2 separate regions of the Homo sapiens genome follow, and region 1 is linked to region 2. Evidence: fine-mapped expression QTL. A gene starts in region 2. The other region holds a variant in brackets. All regions are shown on one strand. Distances are from middle to middle.

Region 1 (2,912 bases), 100 kb after region 2:
GTTTCTTCATCTGTAAAGTGGAATAATATTCGTGTCTTCCCAGAGGACTGTAGCAAGGACTAGGAAAAATGCTTGTGATACACTTAGAACAAGCCCTGGTACACAAAGGGCTTTGATCAGTTACCTGCTTGGTCTCTAAAAGCATTTGGCTTACCAACTACTGCTGGAAGATGTGAATTAAATGAAGATTATTGTTTCTTCTGTTTGTCAACCTAGTACTTTTTCTGCTATGTGTTATTTGGTAGTGCTAGATAGAAAATTGAGCTTCTAAGTGAATTCAGAAACTTTTCCAAATATTCTTTCTGATTAGCCAGTCCATCTTCACCTTTGGAGGATGTTATATGAATAGCATTAGTACTCTTTTCCCCTGCTGAATTCTGCCATACATACATTGATTTTGACCTACTCTGAATCTCTTTAGTGTTGAGTATGTCATGTATTTTCATATTAGGTTATATTCTTTTTTCTTTTTTTTTTTTTTGATACAGGGTCTTACTCTGCTGCCCAGGCTGGAGTGCAGTGGCACAATCATGGCTCACTGAAGCCTCAACCTTCCCGGGCTCAGGTGATCCTCCAGCCTCAGCATCCCCAATGGCTGGGATTACAGGCATGCGCCACCATGCCCGGCCAATCTTTGTATTTTTTTGTAGAGATAGGTATTCGCCATGTTGCCCAGGGCTCAAGCGATCCACCCATCTCGGCCTCCCAAAGTGCTGGGACTACAGACGTGAGCCACTGTGCCTGGCCTATATTCTACTGCTTGTCGTTGCTTGTATTTTCTTTTCTGGTACAGTGGAAGTCTGTCATATTTTTATGCTATTGTATCTTGCATGATGCCTAGCATATTGAAAATAATAAATAAATTGCTCATGGAATGAATAGTTTAAATCATCGCTAGAAATAGGGGAATGGCTCTTTTGAAGGCAGGCCTATGGCATCCAGGTTCTTTTAGGACAAATCTTTCACCTGTTCCTTCATCCTTCAGTTCATCCATTCATTCGTCCATCTATCCCCAGCAACCACTGAGAGGGTGCCCACTCTCTGTCAGATTCTCAGCTAGGATATTGGTGCCTCAGATATGAAAGAAATGGAAGAAACATGCCCCACGGAAGAAACTGAAAGACCAGGTATGCATGATGTGTAGTTTGCTAATCCAGACAATGACTGTGCATTTTGAGAGGCTAGTAGGTGAGAAAATGAAATAAAGAATTCTAGACTCAGCTAATTGGCTCAGGCGGCATCAAATATAGAGTTTTCTGTCCTAGTCTTTCCTTTTCTTCCCTTTAATTGTGCCTGTTTGTAACCAAAGCACAAGTAACTTCTTACTAATGTGGTAAGAGCTTTATACAGGGCTGATCTGCAAAGCAGAACTGGTTTGTCTGGAACTTTCTGAGGTGGTTACTTTCTAAAGAGTTTATAGGTGGAATCTTTTTCTTGGCATCATTGAACCATGAAGTCTGGTCCTTTT[A/G]AGGTCTATGGCTTGGTTGTTGATTTAACCCTGCTCTGATGTTGTTTCCATTTCTAAATCACACTCATGTACTGAAAATTATATCGGTTCCTTGAAATTGGGCAGAGTTGTTAGTTTGGCTTTTTTCAAAACTAGGGTGGGACTTTGCCTTGCGTATATTTACTGGCCACTAACAAAGAAGGGTCAGGAGCAGGTCTGTCACATCCTTACTAGGTAAAAAAAGTCCGTTCTTTCACAGCTGGTATCCAAGAGAGGGTCTTAATTCACTTCCAAAAAAAAGAAGGAAAAGAAAAAAGAAAACGAGTTGTTTAAAGTGCCTTTTGATATTGATATCATTTGAAAGAATTATATAATCTTTTTTGACATGTATTCTCCAATATTAGCTCGATTTGAATTCTGAAAAAAAAAAGAAGAAAGATTTTTCCCCTTCATGGTTGAACAGGAAAGAATCTCACTGTAAAAACACTGTATTCTCTTTCTCCTTTTTTGCATGCATAATTATTGAGTCCAAGGATATAGTCAAATTATTTCAGAAGGTTTTAGTGAACAACTGAATAGCTTAATCATGCTAAAAAGAATTTTCCCTCTGCTAGGATAAGAAGCTCTGTGTGGCCAGGTGCAGTGGCTGACGCCTGTAATCCTAGCACTTTGGGAAGCTGAGGCGGGCGGATCTTGAGGTCAGGAGATTGAGACCATCCTGGCTAACATGGTGAAACCCCGCCTCTACTAAAAATACAAAAAAAAATTAGCCGGGCGTGGTGGTGGGCACCTGTAATCCCAGCTACTCAGGAGGCTGAGGCAGGAGAATGGCATGAACCTGGGAGGCGGAGCTTGCAGTGAGCCGAGATCGCGCCATTGCACTCCAGCCTGGGCGACAGAGGGAGACTCCGTCTCAAAAAAAATAAATAAATAAATAAATAAAATAAAAAATAAACACCAAGTGTCCCTGAGATACCCACTGCCTTCTCTCTTGTGTCTCAGTGCCTTCTTTTTAATGTTTAGTTTTTAAGCAATATTTTTCATATTAATAAAGAAATTTGTGTTTATTGTAGAAAAAATAGACTATGTGGATGGACCCAAAGGGGTATAAAGACCAATAACACCACCATCCAGATAAAAACACTGGTCACACCTCTTCGTATGTGTGGGTACGTGTGTGTAGAGAGTTTTAGTTCCGTTTATTTTGTACATTGTTTTATCCCCAGCATCTAGAATAGTGTCTGATACACAGTAGGTGCTCAATAAGTATTTTTTGATAAAAATAAATGGATTCAAGTGGATGTGGGAAGTCTTTGTCCTCCAAGAAGCTCTCACACACGCCCTGGAGAGACATCCTTGCCCAGGTCTCACTAACTGTGAAGCCCAAATCACCTTCGCTCATGCTTTCACGCTCCCTCTCACCTTTCAATACCAACATGCTCATTAGAGTCGTCCATTTTTGCAA
Region 2 (2,912 bases):
AGCTCTGAGTGCCTGAGTGCCCAGCTTGTCATATACGATGCTTGGATTTGTGCAAGCATTGATCTCAATGGCCTGGTAATTATAAAAGCTGAAGAACAGCTGAAATCAAGAACTTCTCCACCCCAGCCCCTGAGGACAATACCACCTCCAAATGCCTTGGGCCCACTCTGGTCTCTGGTGTGGTGGGACAGCGCTGTCCGGTCTGCGCAGGTGATTTATGTCTGCCTGCTTTTCGGAGAGGCCAGAGTTTATTGCCTTGCTGGGCAGAACTGCAGCTGGGGCCTGCCCTGTCCCATCCCCATCCCCCCGAAAGCAAAGATTTCCAATTACTGTTCTGTAGAAAATGTCAAAAGCATTATTCAACTATTCATTATCCCAGGTTTTGCAATTTTTCATATGTTTTTACTCTTATCTGCCAGCACTTGAAAAAGACCAGCTTTTTCCTCTTAAGAGAGCTTAATTTGCAGAGCTGTGCAGTCTTCCTATTATGTTCTTATCATCCTCTCCCTTTGGTAGGCAGAATGACAAGGATGACAAAAAAAGAACCAAAAATATTTGAAGGCCTTCCTGAAAATCCACCGGAATGAAGGATCCCAAAAGCCTGAGGCTCGGTTCCTCGAGTGACCTGGACGGGAGCCAAGGGCGGCTGGCATTAGCTCTCACAGTCCACTCGGCAGGAGCTCGTGGCTAGTGCTCATGGGACCAAAACCACCACCCCAGGGCCATGGGATTCCCCCCCAGGGGCTTAACTGGGGGATTAAGCAGCTCTGAGGTGCCAAGAGGTCCCCTCTCCCCGAAATCCTCGTACCAGTGCTAAATTACCTTTGGTATCCCAAGGACCAGAGGCTAAGGGTAGCTTGGGGTGAGTGGTTAGCTCTTCCCCCATCTCCTGTGGCCCCTCCGCCCCATTCTTTGATAAGGTAACTGACATTTTTCTCTTTGCTGTGTAAAGTGCTATGCAGAGGCAACTTCACGTCCCCTAGCTCGCTCTGTTCCACCTAGATGGCGCCCTAAGCCCCGCCTGTATGGAGATTCGGAGCAGCCATCTCCCTGGATGCCTTCCTCCCACGATCCCCAGGTTTCTGAAGCGGGCGCACCAGGACTCCTGGCTCACCCAGAGAGACGCCTTGCCCGCGGCGGGGCTCGCTCGGGGAAATCCCCGCCCACCTTGTTATTCCTGCAGGGGAATCCCCGCCCCCCGTCCCTGTCACTCGGGGAAGGGAGTTCCCGCCCCTCGAATCAACCAGGGGGAGGGAATCCCCGCCCATCCTGGAGGCTCGGCGGATCCCCTGCGCAGCGAGGCGAGGAGCGGACCCCAGCGCCGGTGCGTGCCGGCCCCGGGCAGCGGGACGCGGCGGGGCGGCGGCTGCAGGCAGCCGAGGAGCCGCAGGCCGAACCCAAGGCACCGGGATTGCGCCTCCCGCGGCTGCCGGCGAACCGCGGCTCTGCAGCTCGGGGCAGGCGCGGCGGCGGCACCGGTGGTGGCCGCGGTGGCGGCAGCTGCGCGGGGACCCGCCGGGCGGCGCCTGGGTCTGGACGCGCGAGGAAGCCGCGGGAGCCTCGGCCAAGCCGCGAGCAGGTGAAGCGACCGTCCCGCTGCAGCCGGGACGCGCGGCTCCGGGTGGGCAGGGGATGGGGGAGGCCCGGCACCCCCGAGACCGTGTGTGCCCAGGAAAGTTTAGCTACAAATCCGGGTGCGGGAATCCCAGCCCTGGCAGGGCGGGGAGTGAGGACGCCGAACCGGGGTCCCACGTTGGGCGGCGCAAACTCCTCTAGCATCCGGCCGGGGACGGGGAGGGCGCAGCCCAGGGGAGGGGGCTAGACAGAGCGGGACCGAGACAGCGGGACAACCGGAGACGCACTGCCGGGGGTACTCAAGACAGGGCCGGGACCTCCTGCTCGGGCGCGCATCCCGGGTCCCCATCCCTGGGCCGTCTTCTGGTCCCTTCCTCCGACAGGAGTGGAGGTACTCAGGTACTCCGGCCTCAGGTAATGTCTTGGGGACCATCCTCCCTCGGGCTTGTTTCATCTCTCAACCCCCGCCTCTTTGCCCAGATGAGACGTTAGACGCGGGGCGAGGGAATGCAGGGGGCGCGCAAAGATCAAGGGCATCTTAGGGCCGGTTATTGGCGTCTGCCGGGGAGATGGGGAACATAGTGATAGGGAAATCCTGCTCTCTCTCTGAAGTCGAGTTTCTCCTAAAATCTGGTTTCTCCCTCCCTCTGTTCCTCTCTCCCTCCCTCGGGTTTGCGTTTGTGTTTTAAGTCTTTGAGCTGCCTGTGGTCCCCGCTATTTGGAAAATCCATTAAAGCGCAAGGCTGAATTCAGCAGCAGGAGGGTCCAGGACCCCTGGCAGGAGTTTGCCAGAAGCTGTCCTCGGCAGCCCAAATCTATGCAGAGACCTTGATAAGGGACACTGGAGTGGGAAGAGGACAAGGTCTGGCATGGGCTGGTCGCAGAGACTGGAATGGCAGGCACGAGGGCATTCCAGAGCTCCAGACCTGCCCTGGGACTGGCCGTTGGGCAGTGTTGGGGGATGGAGCTGAGTCTGAGTCTGTCCCCTGCAGCTGGCCTAACCTCTTGCCTCCACCAAAGGTAGGGTAGGTGGATATGTTTGCCTTGACAAATCGCAATGAAACTACTGGAAGTGGTTGCTGAGTGGCTGCAGTAAGTGATGCCCTGATCTGTCCTTGCAGAGAGACCCCCTGGACCTTCAGGGCCTGTTCTCCAGTGGGGTCTCTGAACACTGGAGGGCTTTAGGGGCCTGGCATCTCTACTGGGCCAGCTTTTGTGGGTTGTGACTTCTGGGTGGTGGCCAGATAGGTACAGGTTGGCAGGTGTGAAGTGGGAGTGCTGCTTGTGGGGGCAGAAGAGAATGTCTCAGAACACACCCCTGGCTGTAGGTGGTGGTT

Alleles and levels. Alleles are on the strand shown, and positions count from the first base shown. SD is a standard deviation of normalised expression in the study named.
For the expression in tibial artery of the gene that starts at base 1,273 in region 2, allele G in region 1 goes with a lower level than allele A (moderate effect, 0.51 SD a copy in GTEx).

The links.
Region 1: its variant is fine-mapped to the expression of PDZD2 in tibial artery (GTEx, PIP above 0.99).

The regions. Positions count from the first base shown.
Region 1 is chr5:31,742,711-31,745,622 of GRCh38, forward strand. All of the region lies in intron 1 of PDZD2 (PDZ domain containing 2), which reads left to right. Among named protein-coding and RNA genes, the nearest start is that of PDZD2, 110 kb to the left of the region's middle. The variant A/G (reference allele first, on the strand shown) is at 1,469.
Region 2 is chr5:31,637,859-31,640,770 of GRCh38, forward strand. It overlaps PDZD2 (PDZ domain containing 2), which reads left to right and starts at 1,273. Exons shown (of 25, transcript NM_178140.4): 1 at 1,273-1,579. RefSeq lists a silencer at 1,227-1,576.